Linked DNA regions of Homo sapiens. The protein of the gene in region 1 purifies or fractionates together with the protein of each later gene. This does not show direct contact. Each region holds a gene or a part of one and is shown on either strand. Other genes may lie near its edges. The genes, in order: GRB10, PPP2R2D, DHX30, G3BP2, AIFM1, ANKRD28 and CCNYL1.

Evidence for each region.
Region 2: the proteins of GRB10 (region 1) and PPP2R2D purify together in Homo sapiens (affinity purification with mass spectrometry; 2 studies listed by BioGRID and IntAct, with this or other methods). This does not show direct contact.
Region 3: the proteins of GRB10 (region 1) and DHX30 purify together in Homo sapiens (affinity purification with mass spectrometry; one large-scale study listed by BioGRID and IntAct). This does not show direct contact.
Region 4: the proteins of GRB10 (region 1) and G3BP2 purify together in Homo sapiens (affinity purification with mass spectrometry; one large-scale study listed by BioGRID and IntAct). This does not show direct contact.
Region 5: the proteins of GRB10 (region 1) and AIFM1 purify together in Homo sapiens (affinity purification with mass spectrometry; one large-scale study listed by BioGRID and IntAct). This does not show direct contact.
Region 6: the proteins of GRB10 (region 1) and ANKRD28 purify together in Homo sapiens (affinity purification with mass spectrometry; one large-scale study listed by BioGRID and IntAct). This does not show direct contact.
Region 7: the proteins of GRB10 (region 1) and CCNYL1 purify together in Homo sapiens (affinity purification with mass spectrometry; one large-scale study listed by BioGRID and IntAct). This does not show direct contact.

Annotation. Positions count from the first base shown.
Region 1 is NC_000007.14:50,670,917-50,675,125, forward strand, and holds part of GRB10 (growth factor receptor-bound protein 10), read right to left. Parts: intron 3,743-4,209; coding exon 3,520-3,742; intron 1-3,519.
Region 2 is NC_000010.11:131,952,843-131,957,051, reverse strand, and holds part of PPP2R2D (serine/threonine-protein phosphatase 2A 55 kDa regulatory subunit B delta isoform), read right to left. Parts: intron 1,369-4,209; coding exon 1,089-1,368; 3' UTR 1-1,088. UniProt on the Homo sapiens protein: Substrate-recognition subunit of protein phosphatase 2A (PP2A) that plays a key role in cell cycle by controlling mitosis entry and exit. Involved in chromosome clustering during late mitosis by mediating dephosphorylation of MKI67.
Region 3 is NC_000003.12:47,837,483-47,841,691, forward strand, and holds part of DHX30 (ATP-dependent RNA helicase DHX30), read left to right. Parts: intron 1-3,394; coding exon 3,395-3,696; intron 3,697-4,134; coding exon 4,135-4,209.
Region 4 is NC_000004.12:75,662,995-75,667,203, forward strand, and holds part of G3BP2 (ras GTPase-activating protein-binding protein 2), read right to left. Parts: intron 1-4,209.
Region 5 is NC_000023.11:130,138,265-130,142,473, reverse strand, and holds part of AIFM1 (apoptosis-inducing factor 1, mitochondrial isoform AIF precursor), read left to right. Parts: intron 1-1,856; coding exon 1,857-1,941; intron 1,942-2,602; coding exon 2,603-2,679; intron 2,680-3,772; coding exon 3,773-3,881; intron 3,882-4,209. UniProt on the Homo sapiens protein: Functions both as NADH oxidoreductase and as regulator of apoptosis.
Region 6 is NC_000003.12:15,675,271-15,679,479, reverse strand, and holds part of ANKRD28 (serine/threonine-protein phosphatase 6 regulatory ankyrin repeat subunit A), read left to right. Parts: coding exon 1-4; intron 5-95; coding exon 96-179; intron 180-1,125; coding exon 1,126-1,271; intron 1,272-1,852; coding exon of another isoform or gene 1,853-1,866; exon of another isoform or gene 1,867-1,917; coding exon 1,918-2,000; intron 2,001-2,423; coding exon 2,424-2,506; coding exon of another isoform or gene 2,507-2,510; intron 2,511-3,490; coding exon 3,491-3,582; intron 3,583-4,209. UniProt on the Homo sapiens protein: Regulatory subunit of protein phosphatase 6 (PP6) that may be involved in the recognition of phosphoprotein substrates. Involved in the PP6-mediated dephosphorylation of NFKBIE opposing its degradation in response to TNF-alpha.
Region 7 is NC_000002.12:207,749,511-207,753,719, forward strand, and holds part of CCNYL1 (cyclin-Y-like protein 1), read left to right. Parts: intron 1-1,446; coding exon 1,447-1,609; intron 1,610-4,077; coding exon 4,078-4,188; 3' UTR 4,189-4,209. UniProt on the Homo sapiens protein: Key regulator of Wnt signaling implicated in various biological processes including male fertility, embryonic neurogenesis and cortex development. Activates the cyclin-dependent kinase CDK16, and promotes sperm maturation.

The DNA.
Region 1 (4,209 bases):
ACTTTCCTGGCACATCTCCAGGGGCATCTGTTCCCTCCTCCGAAAAATGCACAACCCACTTGTCACACAACTATGCAACACACACACAGTATGACGAATCAGAAGCAACTGTGAACAGCAGAGAAATCAAGTTCAAAGTCAAAGCGAATGTCAAGTGTCTGGCACCTCCCCTCTGTAGAGTAACTTCTGGCCCACACCTCCAGGGCACTCCTGGACACACAGCCTCCTCCACCCTTCCTGAGGCCACGCGGCCCTGTCTGCAGCCTCCTACCTTCAAGGAGAGGGGAGCAAACCTCACATTATCTTCACTCGGCATTTCCAATCCCTCCCCATGTTTAAACATACCTCAGAAACCCCCATCATAGGCTGTGTCCTCAAGTAATTTTTTTGACAATTTTTACGATTTCACAAAATCAACAATCCGTTAGCTTTCCCAGGAGATTTGCCACTACAGAAACACATTTTGTGACTGTATTACTTTTTCTCTTTTACCAACTTTCCCTATTTTTTAAAGGAAGATCCAGCTAACTATCCCACGTAGACCAGCAAATGATGCATGGATTTAAAATTACGAGAACTCACATGGCATGAAGGGAATCAGTGCTGCGAAATACAGGAAAGCCGTTCCTATAATGGTTTGATGACATGCCATAAAGTTTATTTTTACTGTGAACAAATCCCACTCTTCCCATAACAGCTTCAGCCTTGGCAAGGCGTCCAACTGAAACGTCTGGCCATTGTCATACAGGAGGAGATGGATAAAACGGGTGGCCAGTGCCACTTTCCCATCCACGGCTTCTAGCCAGTGACTTCACCCCAAAAAGATAATCTGACGTTTTAGTGTCCACAAAAGCTTCTCTATTTATTGGGTTGTTTTGAGCATTTTAAAAAGTCCTGTGTTGACTTTAAAGCGGCTCAGAGACATCGCCTAAGGCAAGACTAAGGGATATCACACAAAGACAAAAAATCCCCACCAAAGAGGCTCACAATAGAAGGGACAGTGACTATGGAGAGGGGTGCTGAGATTTAGGGATGTCAGGGATGGTGGCAGGAACTGCAGAGCTGAGGGGCGAGGTCCTTCTTCTCTGTGCCTTGGCTCACTTGTGTTTGTCTAGAACACATGCGTGGCCCTTGCACTCTCAAAAGCCTGGGTTCCTTCTCTGTACAGAATCGGCTCACCCATCGGCTTTCCTATGTGCAAAGCCTTCTTGCCCTTCCCAAGTGTCTCCTCTGCCCATACCCTGCCTGCCCCCCAGCTCCCTTCGGGTTGCATGGCAGCCCCCGGTAAGTTCCTCTGCAGCGTGGACCATGCTCCGTGACCTCTGGTACCCAGCAGCCTGCTCCATGGCCACTTCCCACCTGATGTGGTGAGCCCAGTTACCGCCCCGCTGTGCCACGGTTTCCTCAGCTGGGAAGCGAGGGTAACCCACACTGCCTCCCTCCGAGGGCACTGATAACAAGGAGGAGCTCATCAGCATCTGCACACAGTAAGCACTCAGCAAATGGCCTCACTTCACAAAATAATCTTTGGTGATTCCAGATTGATCTCCACATTTTTTTTTAATCCACCTGAAAGTAAGAAACAAAACTACTTATCTGAGAGGACACCAGAGAGAAGACATTGGGCCCAAGGAACAGCACCTGTGACCCTGTAGGGAGAGGGCTTTGCTGTCCCACAGAGCAAGCCTGCCCCTCCATCCCAGGGACTTAGCGCAGGTAGTCCCGGGGCACATATGGGCGAGTTCAGCCAGAACTCGAGGTTCAAGGGTCCTGGGCAACTACTCCAGCAGGGAGGCAGGCCTTCTGGCTTTCCAGCCCACCCTCGGGCACCTTCGCCATGCAACTGCACCTCCATATTCCCAGGCACTCCCCAAGGCTACTGTGATGCTCCCAAGAGATGCTCCCAAGAGAAAAACAGCTCTCCCACCAGACTTAACTCCTCAGGAGCTAAGTACAAGGGGTCACGCTTCAAAGAGCAAAGTTGAACAAACCCTGGGACAGGCATCATTCAGCATCAATGAATATGACAAAAAGTGAGAAGTCGGAGGGGAAGCCGGGGTGGGAAGCTGGGGAGGCAGCTGACCACGGGCGCCAGGGCCGCTGCACCCTCTCCCCTCCGTAAGAAACAGCTGCCACCTGGGGCAAGGTGATTATCTGGGCTGCGGAAGACCCAAGATGTCAGACCACAAAGAAAACTCTCAGAAGTTTCTAGAAGCAAGAAGAGCCCAGGAAATGAACAGAGCTCCCCGGAAGATGGGGTGCTGAGACAGAAGGCACCAGAACCCCATCCTGACAGAGGCCAGTGAGGGCAAGGGGCAGTCCCAGCAGAGATGGCTGTACATCCTCCGCAAAGGCCCAGAGAGGCACGCAGGGTCCCACGGAGCCCCACGCCATCCCGACTGCGACAGGGCAGACAGGCGGATCCTTGAGGGCTGCCCCTGGCTCTCAGCTTGATTCTACAAAGATCTTCATTCAGAATGTCTAAGGTACTCTCAGCACCTTCACCTTCGACATGACCATTCTCTAGACACCCTCCTCCCAGGCACTCGAGACAAAATCCAAGTCACCCTCCACACACTCTCTGTCTCCTCACAGCCCTGGCAAAATTCAAGTGCTGGCAAAACGCAGCTGCTCCTCCTCAGCAACGTGCTCAAATCCCCCCTCCTTCTTCATCCTCAGGCAGCGCACAATCATCTCCCATCCGGGGGCTCCTGAGACCACTTCCAAACCGGCCATGCTCTGCCAACCCTGCTGCCCTCTACCACTGCCCCCACGACCCCTGGCAACCAGAATGCTGGTGTCAAAACCCAAACCCAGCCCCTTCACACGCCTGTCCAGAACTCTTTCTCACGTGGCTCCTGAAAAAGGCACACAAAGTGCTTCAGCACCGGCCCCCATCTGCATCATCTCTTCTGCTCACAAAACCTCTGCCTCCATCTATCTGAGCTCCTATCACCCTTTGACATCCGTTCAGAAATCCTACCTCCCAGGAACCTCCCTCAACGTCCCCAGCACGTTCCTCCCTCCAGCCTCCCTGTTTCCACAGAGATGTGCCTACCCCTGAATTAGCAGAGGAATGTGGCAAAATGCAACTCTGAGGGAGGTCTGGGGTTGCACGACAAGCTCCAGGGGGTGCTGTAGCTGCTAGCCTCCCGTCCCTACTCTGGGTAGTGAGGACTTGGGGCATGCAATCAGCTCCATGGCTGTTCTTCCAATCTTTCCAGAGATTTTTCCTCTGGTGGTTTTCCTGCATATCCCTCTACCTAGCACAGTGCCTTGCACATAGCAGGCACTCAATAAAAGGTACTACTGGAATTGAACTGGCTACAAAGTTCAACCCAAGGGCGGCACACTGCACACACTCAGTGTATCCGTTATCCCATCAAAGCAATGTATCTGCCTCTTGACTTTGCAAGACCAACACTATTCCCCCCAACACCATTTAACTCACAGAGAGCAGTGTCCCTGCCGACAGCTCTCATCCTTGGAGAAGGCTCTGCCCATAAGGCCTGGACCTACCTGACAGCGAGGATGTGCACAGGCTGGGAGCGCTGCACCCTCTGCCTCGGGGACACCTGTGGCTGGATGGACCGAGGAGGGCCTGAAGCCCGAGGCTGGCTGCGGGCATGCTGGCCATTCTGCAGGAGGGGCACCGTGTCTGACTGCATGCTGCAGGCCGAGTACAGGCTCTCCAGGGATGCATTCATATCGTTCACCAGGGCTTCCAGGTCCACATCATCCTCTGCACAGAAAAAGGCAAGAGCAAAAAAGAAACTTTAACAATGGAGAGCAATCAAACCCAAATGTACATCTTGGTGATCAGGTTCCAAACCTCAATCCTATTTTTCAAATATTATGGAAGGGGTAGAGGGGAAACACCAAGACAAGTATGACTGTATGGAAGCATGCATATTACATGTATTCATCATGACTGACATTCCAGAGACAATTCAATCATTAGAGCTGGGCTGCATTTCTACCTGTCTCCAGGGAGAAGCCATTCAGAGCATCTGCTCAGCTCCCTTCAGCACCCCCTTCTCTCCTCCCCACCCCCTCCGGTAGGCCGCACACAGCCACAGCTGCATAGCACGACCCCACTGGCCTGGACTCAGCTGACTGAATCACAGGTGTCTCCCAGGATCAGGACTCTCCCTTCCCTGGGATTCCAGAAGTGAAACAAGAGACAGAAACAGAGCAGCACCCAACACT
Region 2 (4,209 bases), on another chromosome or scaffold:
TGATTTCTGGTATCAAAGATCCTACTTTGAAAATAAACCAACGTACTGGTGGCATCGTGTAATTAAAATTGCTTAATTTTGCTGGCTTGAAATGCAGGATGAAATTTAGCATGCATGTAATTTTAGCAATGTTTAAAAAGTATACTTTCCCCAAAGTGCTTTTTCAAAAGCCTTAGAAAGCAAGCACGTATTTCTTCAACTGTAGTGAATTTGAAGCTACTTTAAACCAGGCTTACTGGATGGCAGCAATTTTGGTTCTTCCTTGCAATTTTCTTTCTCAGAGGTGGCCTCGGTTCTGGCTTTTCCCAGACCTTACCTGGTGTATCTGATGGGCTACTTCTACAGAAACACAGCGGGCAGCAGCTTGGGGACAGAAATGCTGCACACATACCCCCACGCTGCCAAAGAAGGACACACATTTCTCAAACAGTTAGTTCCAAAGAAGAACCCTGCATAACTTCATTCTATGCAATAAAATTAAATAAAAAGACAATACTTCTGTTTGGATTTAAAAACACTTTATAGTGTGTTGTTTTTATTGAGCGCTCACACCCGAAGGGGTGGCGGCGGATGCTGTGGGTGAGTGGGGCCGCCTGAGCCTGCTCGGGCCACATCCACACATCCACAGAGTCCACCTGGACTCGGAGGAAGGCCGAGAGGACACGGACGGTGGCCACACCACGCTGCAGTGAAGGCCCAAGTGTGATGGCAGAGAAAGAGGGAAAGTTGGAGAAAGAGCGGTATCTGACAATAACTTTTCTCTTGGATGTTAATTTTTTGGTCTATAAATTGGAAAGGAAGGCTCGGACTGAAATAAATACATTTATTCTGAGTAATGACCTTTTGGGAGCAGTGTCCGTCAACTCTGCTTCGAGAGCGTCTCCACGTGAGCAGCAGCGCCTGTCTCGCGCCTCGCCGAGGCGGAACCACACCGGGCCTCCAGCGGAGGCGGCTTTCTCCTGTGTCTGTGAAGGGAAGTAGCAGGTGCGTCACTGTTCTTAATGGAGCGGACAATGATGCCTTTTCTCTGACAGAAAAATGTCCGGCTTAACTATGCAAGACAAGACTTGGTCCTCACGTTCGCGTCTCTAGTTGATTTTGTCCTGGAATATGTACAAGTTATTGGTGGCAGCCACGGCAATGACATTGTCCACGGGGTGCCAGGCTGTGTGCAGGATCTTCTTGTTGAAGTCCAGACTGTCCACACTGATCTCGTCTTTCCTCCGCTTACCCCCCGTACACACCTTCCGGGGTTTGAGGCTGGCGCGCGGTTTGCTGCTCTCTCTCGAGGCCTCCAGGGTCACATCCCTCCGCGTGTCTCTATCAAACATCCTGAAGAAGTTGTTATAGGACCCGGTCATGATGGCGCTGTTCAAAACAAGAGCAGACAGCAGCACTCCTCAGTGGGGGGAGCGGCAGCAAGGACTCAGACCCCACCCCTGGGGTGCACAGCGCACGCCACCCTCCCCCACAACCCAGTTACTTTCAGAAATCAGGAATGATCAATCACAATGGGCAGAAGAGAAATGCAGTGAAAATGTGTACCGAGCTTTATCTATAATCATGTCAGTAAGAATCCATGTCACAGGAGAAACAAAATAATGGAGTCACACTTTTAACATTAGTGTATTTTTTGAAACAACCCCACCTATTTATCTCACTCATGAATAACAGCACAGTTTATTTTTAAGCCTTATGTTCTGCAATTTGTCAATGATCCATAATGACCTGAACATAATCCTTATCATGTTCAACAGTTACTAGTCATATCTGTCAATGTTTCTTTGGAGTTAAACTGCTTTTCTATTAATTTCAAAAAGTTTCTTTCAAATGAGGCAACGGATAGAAATAGTAAAAATCCACTGGGCAAAGTGTGGCAGAATTTTAGAACAACTGCATTTCACACACATTCCAGACAATACAATACCGTCCATGCTTTTGTTTCTTCAAGATCAACTGTAATGGCTTTCAAATGTCTCTGCTGTCGAAAAATTCTACTACCGCACACATCCTCATGATATAACTTCATAATACTGGTAAAAACCTCTGCAATCTTACATTTTCTACAAAAATGACAGAAAAATAGCTGAATGATGCAAACGCTGCCATGATTTGACCCATGGCTTCATGAGTCCAGTTTCTGATGAAAGATGTGTTCAAACAATGCCCTTCTGGTTTCTCCAGCCGTCCTTGAAGCTCGCCTCCTCTTCCTATTTTGACACTAACCCGCGCCCTCACGTCCTGCCCCCATGGTCATGCGCGGTGAGAGGCCTTTCACGCTGGCGCGTCTTCAAGGTGCCATGAGAAAGAAGCGGGCCGCTTCCCTTCCATGGCCCAGCACTGACCCTGGCTGCTGGCAAATACCTAGTGTCTGACTGACCTTGTCTAAAACTTCAAAGCAGGGGAAAAAAAAAAAAAAAAGACGAACTCAGAGAAGAGAAACTGCATTCAGCGATCCATGTTTATTTCCCATCTCCTGCTTCCATCCAGGAGCCCACAGCGCCACAGAGGCGGGAGACACAAGGTGTGCCCAGCGCCCTCCAGCAATGCCAAGCTGTGCACGTGGTCTTGGAACAGGGGTATGCAGCCAAGTTGGCACGTGAGGGCCATTGACTGGGGGTTCCCCAAATTAGTTTCCACATAAAACACAATGTTTACGAAAGGGTAAGTAATAAGAATGTGTGAATCTGAAGCTTACATTTATGTTATTAAAACTCAACAGTAACCATTATTCAGAACACAGACGACAGATGATGTATGGCCGACACTGACTGGAATTGCTGGTGCATGGTAATAACGAAAAGCACATCAGCTTTCATACAGATTTATGATCACTTTTAAATTCTCGACAGATAGTGCCAGCCCCAGAGTGGGTGTTTCCACACTGCAAACAAGGGCGCTGCCCAGCAGCCTGGTGCTGGCCCAGGAAGGGAACAGCACAGACAGAGACACAGGCGTAAGCACATAACTGGTTCTGTGGGGCGACCTAGAACACAAGAAGGCGCTGCCACACGGAGAATCAGGATTGGGCTGAGGCAGCACTGAAACGCCTCACTCCCCTTCATCGCATCCCTCAACAGAAGTTTCCAGGTAGGAAGACTGGCGTGTTTTTGAGAGTGAATGGACTAAGCAAATGTTACTGGGAACGCTTTTAGATGTTCTTGGGGATATGTAATCTAAGGGTATTTTGCAATATTTGAAATATATCAAGAGGAATAAAAAATACAGTGACTATCCATGTACCCGCAAGTCACTGCTAAGACAGTGAACCCCCCGCACACTCGCAAGTCACTAAGACAGTGAACCCCCGCACACCAGCAAGTCACTAAGACAGTGACCCCCCCACACACCCGCAAGTCACTGCTAAGACAGTGAACCCCCCGCACACTTGGAAGTCACTAAGACAGTGAACCCCTGCACACCCGCAAGTCACTAAGACAATGAACCCCCGCATACCCGCAAGTCACTGCTAAGACAGTGACCCCCACACACACAACCACAAGTCACTGCTAAGACAGTGAAACCCCCTGCACACCTGCAAGTCACTAAGTGAACCCCCCGCACACCCACAAGTCACTAAGACAGTGAACCCCCGCACACCTGCAAGTCACTGCTAAGACAGGGACCCCCCGCAAGTCACTGCTAAGACAGTGAACCCCCCACACACCTGCAAGTCACTGCTAAGTGAACCCCCCGCACAACTGGAAGTCACTAAGACAGTGAACCCCCGCACACCTGCAAGTCACTAAGACAGTGAACCCCCGCATACCTGCAAGTCACTGCTAAGACAGGGACCCCCCCGCAAGTCACTGCTAAGACAGTGAACCCCCCCACACACAACCGCAAGTCACTGCTAAGACAGTGAAACCCCCCGCACACCCGCAAGTCACTAAGACAGTGAACCCCCGCAAACCTGCAAGTCACTGCTAAGACAGGGAACCCCCGCAAGTCACTGCTAAGACAGTGAACCTCCCACACACACCCGCAAGTCACTGCTAAGACAGTGAAACCCCCTGCACACCCGCAAGTCACTAAGACAGTGAACCCCCTGCACACCCGCAAGTCACTAAGACAGTGAACCCCCGCACACTCGCAAGTCACTGATAAGACAGGGACCCCCCCCGCAAGTCACTGCTAAGACAGTGAACCCCCCACACACACCCGCAAGTCACTGATAAGACAGGGACCCCCCCCGCAAGTCACTGCTAA
Region 3 (4,209 bases), on another chromosome or scaffold:
AGAGGGCCAGGCATGAGGGCCTGTAATCCTAGCACTTTGGGAGGCTGAGGCGGGTGGATCACAAGGTCAGGAGCTCGAGAGCAGCCTGGCCGACATGGTGAAACCCCATCTCTACTAAAAATACAAAAATTAGCCGGGCCTGGTGGCGTACGCCTGTAATCCCAGCTACACAGGAAGCTGAGGCAGGAGAATCGCTTGAACCTGGCAGGCAGAGGTTGCAGTGAGCCGAGATGATGCCATTGCACTCCAGCCTGGGTGACAGAGTGAGACTCTGTCTCTAAAAAGGAACAACAACAAAAAGGTATTAGAGAAGTTGCACGGACAGCTCCTGGACAGTTGAGGAGGTGGGAGGGAGAATGGGTTGGAGGGGCAGCATGCGCCAGCAGGGGGAGCTGTGGACGAGCAATGGGTTGGCGCCTAGGTTATGGCAAGAACAGTGGCTGGTGGATGTTGGTACAGCTCAGGACCGGTGTGGGAGCATGGCCAGGACCAGCAGTGAGCCTGTGGGGACGAGATCCTCTGGTCTAGTGAAAGAGTGGTTGCAAAGGCAGGGGGAGAACGGTGCTGTCCTGCTGGGGAAGCCAGGCCAAGGAGGGATGCTTGTATTGCTGCTCTGTGGAACCAGAGGCATTCTTGTCAGAAGGGAGGCGGTGACGCAAAAGTGTGGCAGCTGAGCCTTGGATCGGGCCCTGCCCCAAGGGTTCGCGAATGTGTGTGTGGCATACCTTGGCCCCATCGTCTGTCCCATAATCCTGCGGTTTTCACGCGTCTATTCTTAATAGACAGACTTTAGAATTGGTTTGTCAAATGCTTAATAAGAAGCCTCTGCAGACTTTGATTGGAATTGTGTTCAATTTATGGATTAATTTAAGAGGTTTTTGTCTCCTCACACATAAAAGTTCTATCATCCAGGAACATATATCTCCATGGATTTACATCCTTTTGCCAAGTTGTGTGCTTAGTCCATACCTTTCTGACCCACCTTAGTTCACCTTAGGTAGGTGATGGTTTTTGTTACTGTTGTGAATAGAATTTTTAAAATTAAATTTAATTATCTCAAAAACCCAAGGAGAAAGTTTTATGAAGGCAGGCCATGGTCACTCTCCAGCTTGTCATGAGTTGGGTGGGATTGAAAGCTCACTGTAGAGAGGTTCCTGGCCCGTGGCCCGTGCTGTCTGCTGTCACATGGCCCTGATGTTCACCTGACAGGCCTTGTTCTTGCTGTCCCGCAGACTTTGTCGCCTTTACCACTCCCAGTGGCAGCTCCTGCAACCTGTGCTTTCTTTGCAGTTGCTCCTGTTCTCCCAGCTGCTCACTCATCTCACCCACGTCTTTGTTCCTTAGACCCTGGCCATCTGCATTTCTCTTCTGCTGCTTAGATTCCTTGTTTGTTTGTTTGTTTGTTTTTGGAGATAGGGTCTTGCTCTGTCACCCAGGCTGGAGTTCAGTGGTGTGATCATGGCTCACTGCAGCCTCGATCTGTAGGCCTCAAGTGATCCTCTTGCCTCAGCCTCCCAAGTCTCTGGGACTACAGGCACATACCACCACCCCTGGCTAACTGCCTCTTATATTCCGAACTGCTTGAGGGCAAGGACCAGGTCTTGTCTCTCCTGATGATGCTTAGGTGGCCAACATGTTGCTGCGTACATGCTAGAGACTTAGGCAATGTTTAATTTATATTTTCTGTAGAAAAGCATGAAGCTATAACACATTTAAAATCATATTTTTGTATAAATAGCTTTAACATTTCAAGTTATTTCTCTAGAATGTATTCCTAACATAGGATTCTTATATTCTCTTTTTTTTTTTTTTTTTTTTGAGACGGAGTTTCGCCGGAGGTTTGCTCTTGTTACCCAGGCTGGAGTGCAATGGTGCGATCTCAGCTCACCGCAACCTCTGCCTCCCAGGTTCAAGTGATTCTCCTGCCTCAGCCTCCCAAGTAGCTGGAATTACAGGCATGCACCACCATGCCCAGCTGATTTTGTGTTTTTAGTAGAGACGGGGTTTCTCCATATTGGTCAGGCTGGTCTCAAACTCCTGACCTCAGGTGATCCGCCCACCTCGGCCTCCCAAAGTGCTGGGATTACATGCGTGAGCCACCGTGCCCAGCCTTCAGGATTCTTATATTCTTATATATAACTTCTTATAACAGAAGTTGTATCCGTTTCATGGTGTGGGCTACATAGGTTTTTTTGTTTGTTTGTTTGTTTGTTTTTTTGTGGAGTCTCTATTGCCCAGGCTGGAGTGCAGCAGCCCCATCTCAGCTCACTGCAACCACTGCCTCCCAGGTTCAAGCGATTCTCCTGTCTCAGCCCCCTGAGTAGCTGAGATTACAGGTGCCCACCACCACGCCCGGCTAATTTTTGTATTTTTAGGAGGATGGGGTTTCGCCATGTTGGCCAGGCTGGTCTCCAACTCCTGACCTCGAGTAGTCCACCTGCCTGGGCCTCCCAGAGTTCTGGGATTACAGGTGTGAGCCACTGTGCCCGTCTGGCTACGTATTTTTTTTTCTTTTCTTTTCTTTTTTTTTTTGAGACGGAATCTTGCTCTGTCGCCCAGGTTGGAGTGCAGTGCCATGATCTTGGCTCACTGCAAGCTCCGCCTCCCAGGTTCACGCCATTCTCCTGCCTCAGCCTCCCAAGTAGCTGGGACTACAGGCACTCGCCACCACGCCTGGCTAATTTTTTTGTATTTTTAGTAGAGACAGGGTTTCACCGTGTTGGCCAGGATGGTCTCGATCTCCTGACGTCATGATCCGCCCGTCTCGGCCTCCCAAAGTGCTGGGATTACAGGTGTGAGCCACCGCACCCGGCCCTACGTACTTTTTAATTGCTGTATTTACTGAAGCTTCCTAGATCATTATGTGAATGTATCTTCTTGGGCTTGGTGCGGTGGCTCATGTCTGTAATCCTAGCACTTTGGGAGGCCAAGGCGGGCGGATCTGTTGGGTCCAGGAGTTCAAGACCATCCTGGGCAACATGGTGAAGCCCTGTTGCTACAAAAATTCGCTGGGCGTTGTGGTGCATGCCTTTAGTCCCAGTTACTTTGGAAGTTGAGGTGGGAGGGTCACCTGAGCCCAGGAGGCAGAGGTTGTAGTGAGCCGTGATTGTGCCACTGCACTCCAGTCTGGGTGACAGAGCGAGACCCTGTGTCAAAAAAACAAAAAACAAACAGTATCTTCTGCTCACCCATTGCCATGTGGGGTTATTTGTTTGCATCAAAGCTAGGCATCTTTGAGAGTTCCATGCCCAGTTCTGGACTAGGGGCTGAAGTGGGTAAACAGATGAAAAACCACGGCTGCACAACACAACTTAACGGTGTAGCTGGACACGGACCAGGCCGACTGAGGTGTAAAGATGGTATCAATCCTTAAAACGTCCCTTTTCCCCTCCAGGGTTGGGGTCTGCTAGGTCCCCGGAATGAGTTGTTTGACGCAGCCAAATACCGAGTGCTAGCTGATCGCTTTGGCTCCCCTGCCGACAGCTGGTGGCGTCCGGAACCCACCATGCCCCCTACTTCCTGGCGGCAGCTGAATCCAGAGAGTATTCGACCAGGGGGACCTGGGGGCCTATCCCGCTCTTTAGGCCGGGAAGAAGAGGAGGACGAGGAGGAAGAGCTAGAAGAAGGGACCATAGATGTTACCGACTTCTTGTCCATGACCCAGCAGGATTCCCACGCTCCACTCAGGGACTCAAGGTACAGATGGAGGATGGGGATGCAGCAGAGGCTGGCTGTGCCTTGACACGGGGATGGGCGAATGTTCTCTGCTAGCTTTCTCTGAGATGGGAGCGCCCCTGCCTCACATTTCAGCCTGTGTGCCCCATCACTCAGTGTGTGTCTGCCCATTCTTGGGGGACAGCCAGCTGTGGTCTTCTATGTGGCTGGGCTTTTGCAGAACAGCAGCATGGAGCCCCTGCTCTCTGCTATCTTATCTGTGTGAGGGAATGGAGGGAGCAGTCCCCATGCAGTGTGGCTGTGGGAGGAGCAGAGACGCCCGGTTTCCCATCCATTTCATGCCTTCTGCCCTTCTGGCTCCCTGCTGCAGCGCAGCGTCCTCACCCCTACATCGCAGAGCCTCAGGGAAATTGGTCCAGGAAGAGAGAATTCTTTCAGTTAAACTTTTGGTCCTCCCAGGGGGAGTTCCTTTGAGATGACAGATGACGACAGTGCCATTAGGGCTCTGACCCAGTTTCCACTTCCCAAGAACCT
Region 4 (4,209 bases), on another chromosome or scaffold:
GTACTTAGAGAGAATCATTTTTTACCTTTGATATTATGTCTCTCTTTCTTTCCACTAATTAAGCATCTAACTACATGAGATACTGTTTATAATAAATGAAATACTCTAGTGAACAAGATAAGTCTCTAGCCCTCAAGGAGTTTATAGTCTGTCAAGAAATATAAACAAGCAAACTGGAAACTTAACAGAATGGGTTAGGTGCTATGATAATGTGCCTCAAAGTTAAAACCAACAAGAACAACTAACATGAAATAAATACAATTTCCTATTTTTGTCTTCTGAGACAGGGTCTCGCTCTGTCACCTAGGCTGGAGTTTAGTGGTGCAATCATGGCTCACTGCAGCCTCAACTGCCAGGCTCAGGCTCAGGCTCAAGCGATCCTCCCCGCTAAATCTCCTGAGTGGCTGGGACTATAAGCATGCACCTGGCTAATTTTTTTAAATTTTTTAATTTTTATTTTTAGCAGAGACGAGGTCTGGCTACAATGCCCTGACTGGTCTCGAACTCCTGGCCTCAAGTGATCCTCTCACTTCAGGTGTGAGCCACAAACAAAACTTATCATTTACTGTAGGAATATAATCCCCAGGGCCAGGTACGGTGGCTCACACCTGTAATCCCAGCACTTTGGGAGGCAAGGCGGGTGGATCACAAGGGCAGGAGTTCAAGACCAGCCTGGCCAAGATGGTGAAACCCCATCTCTACTAAAAATAAAAAAATTAGCCAGGTGTGGTGGTGGGTGCCTGTAATCCCAGCCACTCCGGAGGCTGAGGCAGAGAATTGCTTGAACCCGGGAGGCGGAGGTTGCAGTGAACCAAGATCGCGCCAGTGCACTCCAGCCTGGGCGACAGAGCGAGACTCGTCTCAAAAAAATAAAAAATAAAAATATGAAATATAACCTATTTTATTTTTGAGATGGAGTCTTGCTCTGTTGCCCAGGCTGGAGTCCAGTGGTACGATCTTGGCTCACTGCAACCTCTGCCTCCCGGCAGAGCAATTCTCTTGCCTCAGCCTCCCGAGTAGCTGGGACTACAGGCACGTGTCACCACACCTGGCTAATTTTTGTATTATTAGTAGAGACGGGGTTTCACCATGTTAGCCAGACTGGTCTTGAACTCCTGACCTCGTGATCCACCTGCCTCAGCCTCCCAAAGTGCTGGGATTACAGGCGTGAGCCACCGTGCCCAGCCACCTGTTTTATTTTAAAAAGACCTATTAAACTTAAAAGTACTAAAAAAAAAAAATCATAATTCCTAAGCATGTATCTACTGGGTAAATCAGGATGCAGTTGAAATTCCTGCTTAGCCAGGTGCGGTGGCTGACGCCTGTAATCCCAGCACTTCAGGAGGCCAAGGTGGGCAGATCGCCTGAGGTCAGGAGTTCGAGACCAGCCTGGCCAAAATGGTAAAACCCCTTCTCTAGTAAAATACAAAAATTTGCCAGGCGTGGTGGCTGGCGCCTGTAGTCCCAGCTACTTGGGAAGCTGAGGCAGGAGAATCGCTTGATCCCAGGAGGCAGAGTTTGTAGTGGGCCAAGATCATGCCTCTGCACTGCAGCCTGGGCAACAACAGAGTGAGGCTCCATCTCAATAAATAAATAAAGTCCTGCTTAAACTTCAGGTTGAGCTGGGAGGATCATTTGAGATCAGGAGTTCGAGACCAGCCTGACCAAGATGGTGAAACCCCATCTCTACTAAAAATACAAATAATTAGCAGAGCTGATGGCACACACCTGTAATCTCAGCTACTCAGGAGACTGAGGCACAAAAAATCACTTTAACCTGGGGGACAAAGGTTGCAGTGAGCCGCGATCACACCACTGCACTCCAGCCTGGGCAACTGAGTAAGACTCTGTCTCAAAACAAACAGACAAAAAAACACTGCAGGCTGGCACAGTGGATCATGCCTGTAATCCCAGCACTTTGGGAGGTGGAGGTGGCAGGAAAGCTTGAGGCCAGGAGTTCAAGACCAGCCTGGCCAACAGAGAGACCCCATCTCTATACAAAAAATTAAAAATAAAAAGTCAATTTCCATGTGTGTTTACTTTAAATAACTAAAACAATTTCAGAGACAGCCCTGCATAGGTCATTAAAATTGTGATGCTGTTTTTAATAAAAATCAAATACCAACTATAGTAGAGCTTACAGATAGAGTGTAGCTTTACATAATTCTAGTGACTCACAATTCAACTTCTACATTATGTTTTTAGGTTCCTTGTTTCTTCCTTTCCAACAAACTATCCCTCCTCTAACTGTCCTTCTTAAACTCTCAAACTTGATTTACAAAAATCCCCAAATCTGTTTAAAATTTTTTATAATGCCTCACTTGCTTTCAAAAATAGTTAATTCACAAAGAGCAGATCCAAATACTGCCATTTCAGGTGTCATTGATTTTCCAGAAAACTTAAAACTCCCAATAAGGGTAACAACCCTAGTGCAAAAAGGACTCACATATGCTACATTTAAAGTAACAAAGCACTGGGCTGTGGCTCACGCCTGTAATCCCAGCACTTTGGGACGTCGAAGTGGGCAGACTGCTTGAGCTTAGGAGCTGAAGACCAGCCTGGGCAACAAGGCAAAACCCCATCTAAAATTAGCCAGACATGGTGGTGCACACCTGTAGTCACAAACACACAAACACACACACACACACAAACACACAAACAAACACACACACACACACACACACACACACAGCTAAGCAACTAACATTTTTATTTTGAATAATGAGGGTGGGTAAAGAACAGTAGACTTACCTGGTAAAATTTAACAAGATAACTAAAACATGGAAATTATATGTATTTTAACACCATAAAAACTGATGGTAAAATAATACTAACACATGGGAAAATACTACATTACTCTCTGAACAAAATAACTATACACAAAATAGTTTTCTTTAAATTGATAGTGACAGAAATACTATTAGGAATTTCCGGGTTTGGGAATTGTTTTCTTCTCTCTGGATTTCCAGATTTTCTACAGGAACACTGTTGTCATTTATCCCAAATTTCCCATCATATTCATAGAGTACATACTGATCTATCATTTTTGTCACTTACATATTTGTTTCTCAAACCAAAATAAAATGGTACATAATACATATATAATATCACAGGTCAAAATGCTCTAAAGATTTGTTGTAACAAGGTTCAAAAAAAGCTTCAAATTGCCCACTATCTACATGGTCACTGAAGTATAATGGCCAACATACCATCAATTTAGAACAGAGAGACAGGGAAGGGCAGTAGAAGTAATATTTGATTAATCAATACTCAATAAATTAATACTTAGAACTATTGGAAGGCAGTAACTTGAAAAGTTAACTTCAAATGGTAAATAAGTAAGGCAATGCTAATCTGGTAAAATCTAAACAGGCATATAACAGGTTATATAGAAAGCTGAGCTTTTAAGGTGCAGAGGAGGCTCCCAAAGGAATGGTAAAACAAAATCAAGATTTACTGAGAGAACAGTGTTTCAACTAATTACATCAGTTACTTCTTTAACCATAACTCCGATTTGAAGTGACTCAGAATTTAGAGAGCCAAAATATAATTGATAGAAATCAACCAGAAAATGACTACTAGAGATCAACCATCAAACAACGTGGTTTGGGTATTGCAGGAAATAAGACTATGAAAATTGAGTAAGTAATATAAAGTTCGTATTTATAATTCATGCAGTGTACGTAAGAAGGTTGAGAAAAAGGAAAAAAGCCAAATTACACTTTCAGAATAAAAGTGATTACAAGAAGAAAGAATTGTGCCATTTTTATTATTCATAGCAAATCATCTTACAGGTAATCCATTTCTAGATCTGGGACCTTCCATTTCTTAAAAAAAGTTAACAAAACGAAACAAAATTCTGAATATGGGAGTAAAAGGTTTCAACTATCTTATCCATGGCCATGAAAAACTCATGACCTTACTGGATCTCGATTTCCTAGTTTACAAATTGAGAAGAAATCCCCGGTCAAGCCTACAAGACTATACAGTTCTACAAAGATAGCCAAGAAGGCCTGGTGCAGTGGCTCACACCTGTAATCCCAATATTTTGGGAGGCCAAAGTGGGTGAATCGCTTGAGCTCAGGTGTTTGAGACCAGCCCAGGCAACATGGCAAAACCCCGTCTCTACTAAAAAATACAAAAAATTAGCGGGGCGTGGTAGTGTGCAAGCGTAGCTCCAGCTACTCGGGAAGCTGAGGTGGGAGGAAT
Region 5 (4,209 bases), on another chromosome or scaffold:
CTCATGCCTCATGGGAAGCTATGGAAGATCACATCTAATGGCTTCATTTGTTTTTGCAATACAATAGAACATAAGATGGTTATCTGAGAGCGAACACCGTGAGGGTTGAGTAGCGGGATTGGATTGAAGAGGGAGCTTACCAAGGACAAATCAAAGGAGGCTAAAGAAGCTGCTTATCCATCAGATCTCAGTTCATGTCATTGCCTCTAGAAAGCTTTACCCAACCCAACCTGACTAGATTGCACATGTCATATGTTCCCAGCGCTACCTGCACTGTTCTTACCACTTACATCACATTTGTCACTCTTGATTATTGTTAGTGCTTGTTAAATTGTCTTGGCCACTAAACTCTGAAAGCAGCAAGGATCACTGTCTCAACTTGATACATAGTAGGTGCTTAATTGAATGGTCTCAGCTAGTAAAGAGTGGTGCAAAGACTGGGGCCCTATTCTCTCTGACTCCAAAGCTCAAGCTCTTAACCATAAGAAGGAGTAGGGTGCAAGGGAATTAAAGGTACTGGCAAAAGAACAGTTTGGGTGTTCTACCATTGGCCCAAATTAGTTAGAATGGAGCAGCTAGTCAAATAAACAGAGAAAATTGAAAGCAAGCATAGGAGACAGACTGAGCGAAAGCTGAAGGGATGGAAAATTGTGACCAACAAGTAGAATAATTGAGGTAGGAGGAGAGGTTTAGGAGATAACAAGATGAGGAAAAGTATGAGCCAGGTTCCAAGGTCTTCAGTGAATCAGGAGGAGTAGCCAGGAGGTGGCTCAAAACAGTGATTCGTAGGAATATAGGACTCCTCTGATGTCCCTCAGAAGAGAATGAAAGTACAAGAATCTGGAAGCAGCAGACCAGTAACCTCAAGAAGCTTGCAGAATGCCAACACCTCCTCCTGGCCTTGTGATGTGGAGTGTGGGGGAACGAACAGCCTCTATGTGTAAGCTCTCCTTAAGAGAGAGCCAAGTTTCCGTGAAGGCTACAAGTTGGAGAAAGCATTCTGTAAAAATGTTGTAGATGTAGGAGACTTATTAATAAAGTAATAATAAGTAATTCCAAACAGCCATATAAGAAAGGCTGTTCCGATTCTCCTTTTCCACACATGGGTCAGGGCTTTGGGACTGTCATGACTTGCTCTAATGTTGCCTGCCTTCTCATTGCCAATTTCCAACATATGACTGCCTAAAAAAACTGGGTACCAGAAACTGTGGTTCCCATGATTACTTGGATATGGTTTCTTAAGGATCGCTTTAGGTCAAGAACTCATTCTTCTTATTGGGCTGACAACTTTTTTTGTTTTTGTTTTTGTTTGTTTTTGTTGTTGTGGTTTTGGGGTTTTTTTGTTTTGTTTTGTTTTTGAGACAGAATCTTGCTCTGTTGCCCAGGCTGGAGTGCAGTGGCATGATCTCGGCTCACTGCAACCTCTGCCTCCCAGGTTCAAGCGATTCTCCTGCCTCAGCCTCCCCAGTAGCTGGGACCACAGGCATATGCCGCCACACCTGGCCAATTTTTGTATTTTTAGTAGAGACGGGGTTTCGCCATGTTGGCCAGGCTGGTCTCAAACTCGTGGCCTCAGTGATCTGCCTGCCTCAGCCTCCCAAAGTGTTGGGATTACAGGCATGAGTCACTGTGCCTGTCCTGGGCTGACAACTTCTTATTGACCTGGAGTTTTGGGGTGGTGATGGAAATGTTCTGAAATCAGATAGTGGTGATGGTGGCACAACCTTGTGAATATACTGAAATCCACAGAATTCCACACTTTAAAATGGTGAATTTGATGTGAATTATATCTCAATAAAACTTTTTCAATGCTAATTCATCTCTACCTCTTTTGTGTATGTGTGTGACTGTACCAGGTAGTACAGCTGGATGTGAGAGACAACATGGTGAAACTTAATGATGGCTCTCAAATAACCTATGAAAAGTGCTTGATTGCAACAGGTGAGCATTTCTGGAGATGGCTTTCTTCCCTGATACAGCTCATTCAAGTTTTAGAGTCCAGCCTTCTCTATGGAAGGCATTACTACTTAAGAAAATGGAAACCCAGACTCTCTGAAGTGAGTGTCTTCTCTTGGTACAAAAGCTGGCTGTGTCAAAGCATCCTGGATCACCAGCCCTTCTGGATGATCCTTGCTGTTCTCCCGGTAGAGGCATGAAGAAGTTGCCCTTTTTTCTCTCCCTGCTTAACCCTCACCCTGTGCCCTGTGCCTTGAAAGTGATGTCGTTTGTGGCTTCATTGCCAGTTGCAATCAGAAACCAAGAGAGGAGACAGAAGCAATTTATCAAACCCATGTAGCTATGCTAGCTGGCAAATCCTCATGAGAAACTAGAAGAGAACATGGAAGCCAAAAGTAAGGCCTTTTGGCCACCTAGGGGCAGGGTGTACCCCTTGAAGACAGACTCTCAAATCTGCTTCTCAAAGGAAACTGACAGAAAGCCTGCTGTGAGGCAAGCTGAAGGCAAACAAAGCCTTGGTATCCTATCCTGTTGTTGCCGCCATGGTGCTAAGTGAAGAGGGCTCCACCTTTGTGTGGTGGAGGGAGTATTGTTTGGGCTGGCTCCTGCTTGTTGGGCTAAAGGGTTTTCCTTCTCTTATTTCCAGGAGGTACTCCAAGAAGTCTGTCTGCCATTGATAGGGCTGGAGCAGAGGTGAAGAGTAGAACAACGCTTTTCAGAAAGGTAATTGTCTGCTTTAGTGTTTTCCTTGTGTTGTTTTTGAAGAAGTAGTATAATCTTGCAGTCCCCAAGTGCCCACCCGGGACTTGGGAGATCCAAGTTCTATTTATGGCTCTTCTCCAGACTTGTTATCTGGCCTTGAACAAGTCACTTCCTCTCTCTGCACCTCAGATACCTCACTCAAGGGTTTTAAGCTCCTAGGGAAAAAATGGAGTGTTTGTATTGCTTGCAATAGATCCTTCTGATTGCTCTTCCATAGTTGTTTTTTCCTGATGTGTTTGATTCATTGGAACCCCTTACAGCCTCTTGGCATTTTTCATTGCAAGTGCTGTGTAGAGACTTCTGAGAAAAAAGTTAAGAGTACCTAAATAAAAAGCAAGGAGGTGTTCTGCTTCTTAACACTGTGCTTATAAAAACTGCTGTCATTTTTCAGGGATAAGATTTGTCCTGTCTTTTTTTTTTTTTCGAGACTGAATCTCGCTCTATCACCCAGGCTGGAGTGCGGTGGTGCGATCTTGGCTCACTGCAACCTCCGCCTCCCGGGTTCAAGCGATTCTTGTGCCTCAGCCTTCCAAGTAGCTAGAATTACAGGCATGTGCCACCACGACCGGCTAATTTTTTTTTTTTTTGTATTTTTAGTAGGGACGTTTTACCCTGTTGGCCAGGCTGTGTACTGTCTTTTAAGTTCTTCCTAGAACAAGGCTTGTCAGCCTCTGCAGTATTGGCATTTTGAGCTGGATAATTGTAGTGGGGGCTGTCTTATGCCATTGTAGTATGTTAGCAGCATCCTGGCCTCTGCACACTAAATGCTGGGAGCACCTACTTGCCCTGACAACCAAAAATGTCTTCAGATATTGCCAGATGTCCTCCTGGGGAAGATAGGGACAAAACTGCCACCAATTGAGAACCACTGTTTATAGAAGGAATTTTACCATGAAGAAATAAATTTGCATTAATAACATAGAAGTTATAATTGAGTCACTTTATACAAGGAGAAAATTTACTTTTGCCAAAGATTTAGAAGAAACTACTTTCTAGTATTATTATCCTATGCCCCTTTTGGAAATTAATGGACTAAACTGATGTGATCCTGCAGATTGGAGACTTTAGAAGCTTGGAGAAGATTTCACGGGAAGTCAAATCAATTACGATTATCGGTGGGGGCTTCCTTGGTAGCGAACTGGCCTGTGCTCTTGGCAGAAAGGGTGAGTATTGAGGAGTGACCTTGATTTTCTTTCTCTAGTCTTATATAGCTTTTCTGTGAATCCCAGAGATGTGTTTGGCAGGATCAGTAGGAAGAGTTTAATTAAGGTTTATTTATTTATTTTTTTTTGAGATGGAGTCTCGCTCTGTCACCCAGGCTGGAGTGCAGTGGCGCGATCTCGGCTCACTGCAAGCTCCGCTTCCCGGGTTCAGGCCATTCTCCTGCCTCAGCCTCCCGAGTAGCTGGGACTACAGGCGCCTGTAACCACGCCTGGCTAATTTTTTGTATTTTTAGTAGAGATGGGGTTTCACCGTGTTAGCCAGGACTGT
Region 6 (4,209 bases), on another chromosome or scaffold:
CCGTGTAAGTAAAGCCAGAATGAATCAGATTTGGTTTGAGTGTTTTAAGAAATACACCATTGCTGTGAGAATGATCACCTTGTTACCTTACACAGGATAAATGACAACGAAGGTGCTGCTGAGATGTTAATTGATACATTAGGTGCCAGCATTGTGAACGCCACAGATTCAAAAGGAAGGTAGGAATTCAACTATGTATTAAATAGTTTTAGCCAGGCACAGTGGCTCATGCCTATAATCCTAACAATCTGGGAGGCTGAAGTGGGAGGATGACTTGAAGCCAGGAGTTTAAGACCAGCCTGGTCAACATAGCAAGACCTGCATCTCTACCAAAAAAAAAAAAAGTGCATGATGATGCATGCCTGTGATCCCAGCTGTTCAGGAGGCTGAGGCAGGAGGATCACTTGAGCCCAGGAGTTTGAGGCAACAGTGAGCTATGATTGCACCACTGCATTCCAGCCTGGGTGACAGAGTGAGATCCCGTCTGGGCCCTACCCCCCAAAAAGGTTTTATTTTCAATAAGAAATAAATTTTAACTACTGGCTGGTGTGAGAGAATTTACAGAAAACCCATTATTAAAAGTTGATTTTTATATTTGCGAGTATAAATTGTTATAAGATCTCAATTATTTTTACATTATAAAAGGTTTTTCTATTTATAGATTTTAGGAAGTTTTCCTCCTTTAAACTATTTTAACATGTAAATATTTTTCCCTCTCTTTCGAATTTGTTTCCCAAAGATTATTGTTAACAAAGTTAACAGTTTTCTAAATGGGAATAAAGCCTGGAAAAAAGTCCAGCAGTTGTAATAAGTGGTGGTATTCAGATTAGGATTTATTTCTTTCAAAATTTCCTTTAATGATGTAATGTTATTTTAGCAATTTTGTAATTAATCTTTACTTCATACTAGTTCTAGTTTAATTAAAGCCTTCTGTATTATTGAAAGTACAAATTTCTATGAGAGAAATTAGTAAGCTCCATTGAGCCTATTTGTTTGTGTACAGGCAGTGCTTTTGTAGCCTAATATGTAAACCCTTAAAAACAGCATGTCACAAATTAAAGAATATTTTTCCAGCATATATAACATTCAAATTTAGTCATATATTTCAATTTTTCTTTATCACAGAACTCCTCTCCATGCAGCCGCCTTCACAGACCATGTAGAGTGTTTACAGCTGCTGCTCAGCCATAATGCTCAAGTCAATTCTGTGGACTCTACAGGGAAAACACCTCTTATGATGGCTGCAGAAAATGGACAAACAAATACAGTTGGTAAAGAAACTTCTTTAAAATTGTATTTTCCTAAGTATGTGTATCACTTATGTATAACTTAGATCCCAAGACTTCTGACTTCAACTAGTTATCTTACCACTCCTAAGACTTAAAACCTTTTACCTGTTTGCAATCCACATTTTCATTTAGGGATACAATGTTTTAGTTTGCCCTGACTATTGAGGAGTCTACTTTACCATGGCCTTATAACATAGTGGTTAAGAACACTGGCTGTGGAGTTGGATTGCCTGAATGTGAGTCCTAGATCTTTCAGCTAAATGACCTTATGCCTCAGTTTTCTCATTTATAAAATGAGAAAAATAACAGTATCTACTTGGTGTGTTGTTGTGAGGGTTAAATAAATTACTTTAAATCCAGAGCATATAAAACAGTATTTAAAATTTAGTGCACAGTCACAAAATAAATGTTAATTGCCATTGTTAGAGTGTGTGACTTATACAACAATATAATTGTCTCATACAATTATATGAAGATATATATGTTATATATTACAATATTTTTCTTGTACTTAAGTTTTTGTGAGAGGGACTTTTTTGCTTTGTATCTTCATTTCTCTACAGTGAGTTATTGGTAATCTAAGAAACATGTTCATAAACATAAGAATTGATGCACTTTTTCCTCCCAGAGATGCTGGTTAGCAGTGCTAGTGCAGAACTGACTTTACAAGATAACAGTAAAAATACTGCCCTCCATTTGGCTTGTAGCAAGGTATGTATACATCTTAAGAATATGTTTCCATTGTTAATATTAACAGTGACCTTAAAAGTTTTTTGACTTCACTAAAATGAACAACTCAGGACCAAACCTCTCTAATGATCACTGGTATTAGATTTCTTGAACAAAATTGACTTATAAGGCACCATGGCGTATCAAAGTCTCCAGTAAGCCAAATAAGTTTTGGAACACAAGTCTAAGCATAATTATCCTCTTTCCTTAATCTTAATTTTGTCCTCTTCTCCTACCCTCACTCCCAAGATGTGTTTGGGCAAATATTAAGATATTAGCCAGGAAAATTCATGGTATATGTATGGTGTTGTACATAATATATGGACTAGGATTGCAGATTGTTGGGTGTATAAATGTATCTTTAATGGTGCTCAAGTTTTTATAACTTATCTGCCACAATTATAGGGTCATGAAACTAGTGCCTTGTTAATACTGGAAAAGATAACAGATAGAAACCTCATCAATGCAACCAACGCAGCCTTGCAAACGTGAGTACTGTCAGTATCTAGTATAAACTTTGTGACCTATAATTATAAAAATGATAAATGGATTTTTTTAAACATGTGACTATTGGAATAGGTTTCATTAGTCATAGAAGCAATTTTAATAGTTTTACAACTGTCAAAACTCATTTCTAAAATGATCACAACTAAAAGCCATATTATTTAAAATGCTTTTGAACTGAAATTTTATTATAACATTGACAATAATGTATTTTTTTCCTTAATCCACCTACCTAATTTTCTGAAGGAAAGTAGTACTATTTTGTGTATTCTGTGGAAATCAACTGTAATAATATGTTACTTGAAACTAACAATAAATGAGGTAAGAAGCTTTATGTGTGTCTGTAAGCCAATAAGGTTTCTTAAAGAATCAAAATTTTTAATAATGTGAGCAGCCAACCTCCAGATAGACTGACAGAGATCTTACATCAGTGTCTCTCATTGTCCCTTGCTATTCCATTTTGAGGTTTAGTAAAGATAAAAATCTTAGAATATTGTTGCCCGTTCTGGGATTAGTCAGATCCCTTGAAGGTCCAAAAATTAGTCATGATGCTTGTAAGCTGTTTTCAAAGCCTATTAGAATTTATGCTACTGCAGTTTACAGTTTTTAATGTATAGTCTGTATCTTTACCAGCCTCATTCCTTAACAACGGAGGAATGCAATTTCAATGGTAAAATGTTTTTAAACATTGAAAAGAAAAGTAACAAAAGGATTGGGTGAAGGTAGGGACCTGTCGATGGGACCTATGGCTGAGCTTGATGCCGAGCTACACGTTGACAAGGTGTGACAGTGCACTGCACAGAGGTTCTGCTCTCCCTGCCCCCATCTTTGTTATTAGGACTAGGTTTCTCGAGTTTGTACCTCTTGGTCTTCACAAGTTGACAAAAATGCTCTTTGACAGCCAGGTGTGTATGTGTATGTGCATGCACATGCACATATGTGTACATGTATCATGTTTTTTCCCCTAGACCTCTGCATGTTGCTGCCCGAAATGGGCTAACAATGGTGGTTCAGGAACTTTTGGGAAAAGGAGCAAGTGTGCTTGCAGTAGATGAAAATGGTAAGTTGGTTCTATATTCTCTTCCCTTAACCTAGAGCTTTTATCTTTTGATCCATATTTGAAGAGAAATAAACTTGGATATTTTTTATTGGTCAAAGAGGAGAGCTAAAGTTAATATTGAAGAGTAGTTTGTGGCAAAGGAATAAGGGCAAAAGAAATAGGAAAAGTTATCTAACAGATGTACTTCCGAATTCCTATATCATCTGTTACAGCAAAGTTAGTATTTACTGTTTATACTTGCCACTTTCTGTTGTTTTAGTAGCCAAAGATTTTGTTCTTTCAGCAAATATGTATCAAGATCCTAGTTAAGTACTAATATTCTTATTTAAAGCCAGTGTTTCTACTCATGCACTAGATCCTGTCCCCTTTTGCCTACTTCATAATGTCAGTTTGACAGTTCTCTTTTGTGTCCTGGAGTAACATTTTTCGCTCTCTTCCTGTATTATTCCTCTCAGTATATAAACATTAGTTCCCTCATCCTTAAAAAATAATTTATAAATCTCACTGCTCCTGCCAGCTACTGCCATATTTCTCTGTCCCCTTTTGCAGCAAAACTACTCTCTTGCTGTCCGCAGTTATTCCTCTCATTCTTCCATTCTTTTGTTGTTGTTGTTGTTGTTTGTTTTT
Region 7 (4,209 bases), on another chromosome or scaffold:
ACCTAGAAGATGCATATTCTGTAAGCATAATGCTTTTCTTCAGTGATTAAACCTCTATTAATATGTGTGTTAATCCTATGAAGTACTATATTTCTACACAGTTAAAATGTATTAGTGGAAAAAATATAAAAGGGATTGTGAAGTGCATTTATTGCTGTAGTAAATTAAGTCCTGGTTAGCTGATTATCAAAACATTATCTGATTTACATTTCTATAGGCTTATGGACATATGAACAGGAAATTAATTTTGGAAGTAGGTTCAGTTGGGTTTTTAAGCTCAGCAAATGAGAAAACCACATCTCTGCTCATATTAACTGCTCTCCATACAGGAGATCATCAAGCATTTGTTGACTTACCCAGTGGATAAAATATTAAAACTTTGAAACCAAGAAACCAAATATGTTGTTTAGGTATTTATCATTTTTATACAGTTAACTCCTTATAGGGATTACTGTGAAAGTGGTTAAGATTTTCTCTAGTTTTATGTTTATTTGCTTAAGCATTTGGCAAGGGCAGCTGTGTGGTCATGTAGCCGACTACTACTCCCAGCCCTTTCCTCTCCCATTGCATTCAGCTCACTCCTACATTCTGTTCTGACCAGGACGGTAGATACTGAGCACCTCAGGGTTTCATTCCCAACTCAGAAGAAACACTGAGTTTTTAAGTCCAGTGACCTACCATAAGTCATATCATAAAATGGGTTTAGTCTAGCCAAGACATCCACCTTTGATCTTTCTGCCTTCCAAAGTTTAAAGAGTATCCTCACCCTGTCATAGTGACAATTTCTCACCTTCATAATATTAAAGTGAGCAGAAACTTGCATTATGCCCTTTGACATAGCCTCATGCGCCGGGACAGGGGGAGGGGATTCCCTTCCCCTGTAATGTAGCTTGCTTATTTATTTATTTGAGATGAATCCTTGTTGCCTCAAGAGTTTTTCCCCCTCAGAGATAATAGCAGTGGCTCTTGATGGATCCATTTGTTGCCGTGGTGATATGCCTACTCCTTTTGTTGGTGCTTCTCTACTTCAATAAGCCCCTTCCTGTTATCAGCCTGGTGAAAATGTCTGCAAGTTCTTCAGAGCTAATAAACAGCATACATCATTCCTTTCATCTGATCACTATAGTGGGGCCTTGTGAGTGAGCGTGAAGTATGAATTGTACAGCTGCACTAATGGAACTCTGAAGAATGAGGCCCGAGTCAGCAGCACAAGTGCATCGGAGGCCGTAACCTTCAACCTTCATCCCAGTTCCAGAGTGCTGGGATGCAGAAGGGACCACAAGTAACTGTACCTTATGTGAACATTAGTATGTTAATACAACTGGGTAGCCTATATTTTAAAATAGAGTTTAGAGCCATTCTAGTCTCTTAGAATGATATTTTTGAAGATAGCCCAGTTGACTGACATTGTCCTGTGCTGGTTCTGTTGTGTTCTTCCTCCTCCAGGAATGAAATGGAAAGGCATTTTCTGGAGCTTCTTCAGTTTAATATTAATGTTCCTGCCAGTGTTTATGCCAAATACTACTTTGACCTTCGCTCCTTAGCAGATGACAACAACCTGAATTTTCTATTTGCTCCTCTTAGCAAAGAAAGAGCACAGAACCTAGAGGTAAGGCTATGAAGTCACTAAGTGAGGTTTTCCATCAGCCACCAAAGCCAACATCTGTGACTAAATCATATTAAGTAGTGATTAGGAAAATGGAAAGCTTTAAAATTAACTAACACTGAAGAGCTTATTAGCCCTTTGGCGTCAGATTTCCTGTGTCTTGTATGGTTTATACAAGGATCAACATTATTTAAAAATTATACATATTAACTCTTCTGTGACCATAATTCAGAATATTTTAAATCAAATTTAATCTGTTGTTAATGAGGTTTCCTTTTGAACTTCTACCCTTTCACATAACCATACATGAATAATTTTTTTAGCTGGGCACTGTGGCTCATGTCTGTAATCCCAGCACTTTGGGAGGCTGAGGTGGGCAGATCACTTGAGGTCAGGAGTTCAAGACCAGCCTGGCGAACATGGTGAAACCCTGTCCCTACTAAAAATACACACACAGGCCGGGCGCGGTGGCTTACGCCTGTAAGCCCAGCACTTTGGGAGGCCGAGGAGGGCAGATCACCTGAGGTTGGGAGTTCAAGACCAGCCTGACCAACATGGAGAAACCCCGTCTCTACTAAAAATACAAAATTAGCCGGCCGTGGTGGCGCATGCCTGTAATCCCAGCTACTCGGGAGGCTGAGGCAGGAGAATCGCTTGAACCCGGGAGGCGGAGGTTGTGGTGAGCTGAAATCGTGCCATTGCACTCCAGCCTGGGCAACAAGAGCGAAACTCCATCTCAAAAAAAAAAAAAAAAAGTACACACACACAAAAATACAGGCATGGGGGTGCATGCCTGTAATCCCAGCTACTTGGGAGGCTGAGGCATGAGCATCGCTTGAACCTGGGAGGCGGAGGTTGCAGTGAGCCAAGATTGCACCGCTGCACTCTAGCCTAGGTGACGGAGTGAGATTGTGTCTCCAAAAAAAAAAAATTTTTTCTTTGCGACTGTATTCCTAATTTTATCTACATACATAATTCACTTGCCACTCTTGACTGTCTTACTTACTGTTTGCAAATTCATGTCATGGTTTATGTATCACAGTGCAGTCCCATGAGTTTTTTAGACAAAGGATTAGTGGATAAGCCAAGAGACCTATACCCTTCACTGTATAGGATGCAGGTGTTTCAAATGCTGGATGTAAGTGGTAGGCATGGTGGCTCACACCTGTAATTCCAGCATTTTGGGAGGCCGAGGCAGGTGGATCACTTGAGATCAGGACTTCAAGACCAGCCTTACCAACACAGAGAAACCCGGTCTCTACTAAAAATTCAAAAATTAGCCGGGCGTGGTGGCAGACGCCCAGTTACTCAGGAGGCTGAGGCATGAGAATTGCTTGAACCCGGGAGGCGGAGGCTGCAGTGAGCCGAGATCATGCCACTGCACTCCAGCCTGGGCGATAGAGCAAGACCCTTGTCTCAAAAAAAAAAAAATAATAATGTAGGAAGTACATGGGTTTTTAATAGAAATGGTAACTTTATGGGGCAAAGTAATATTTATGGCTTATGACTCTTGGTGAGTATACAGCAGAATTACAACTGAAATGGACACATATTTTAAACTAACACTTTCTGTGGTACCTTGGTGGTACTTTAGAATAATATGTATTTCTAGGCTGGGCTCAGTGGCACATGCCTGAGAGTGGCTCATGCCTCAGAGGCTCATTCCTCCCAGCACTTTGGGAGGCCGAGGCAGGCGGGATCACCTGAGGTCAGGAGTTTGAGACCAGCCTGGCCAACATGGTGAAACCCTGTCTCTACTAAAAATACAAAAAATTAGCTGGGTATGGTGGCACATGCCTGTAATCCTAGCTACTTGGGAGGCTGAGGCAGGAGAATCGCTTGAACCTGGGAGATAGAGGTTGCAATGAGCTGAGATCACTCCAGCCTGGGCAACGAGCGAAACTCTGCCTCAAAAAAAAAAAAGAAAAAAATAATAATATGTATTTCTACCATAATTAACGTGCATGTGAAGTAATACCTTTTGGCGCGTCAGTCATCAGACCGCTCATATGTTCCAGTATAGTCCAGCACACACCTGCCTCATTAAAATGTGCTTTGAGTATATAATAGCTAATAAGGATTGGGTAGAATTTGAATAGCTGAATAAACATTTTTTTGCACAAGTGTACGTTTGTTATATTTAAGGAATAAGTTAACAGATAACAGATGCTATTGCTGTTAGGAGCCCTATCACAATACCTTTGATATCTTTGGGAATCCAGTTTTTTAATAATATAATAAATTCCCCTTTGTTCTCTGGGAATCTAACCATAGCCCTTAAAGGATATTACCTTGGTGAACTGTCAGGAAGTAGTGTCCCCACAACCTGGCAGTGTAAAACTCAGCCAAAGTAGCTGTAACTGTGAACTATCTAAAGGAGTCCACATGTGTGGCTTTCACAATGGTGCTCTTTCAAAGGCGGGAACCCTTTTTAAAATTGTACCTGTTTTCTATTTGATTGACTTTCCTAGGCTATTTCTAGATTGTGTGAAGACAAAGACTTGTGTAGAGCCGCTATGAGAAGGTCTTTCAGTGCTGATAACTTCATTGGTATTCAGCGCTCTAAAGCCATCCTCTCTTAAAAGGAGAAATGAGGGGTTATA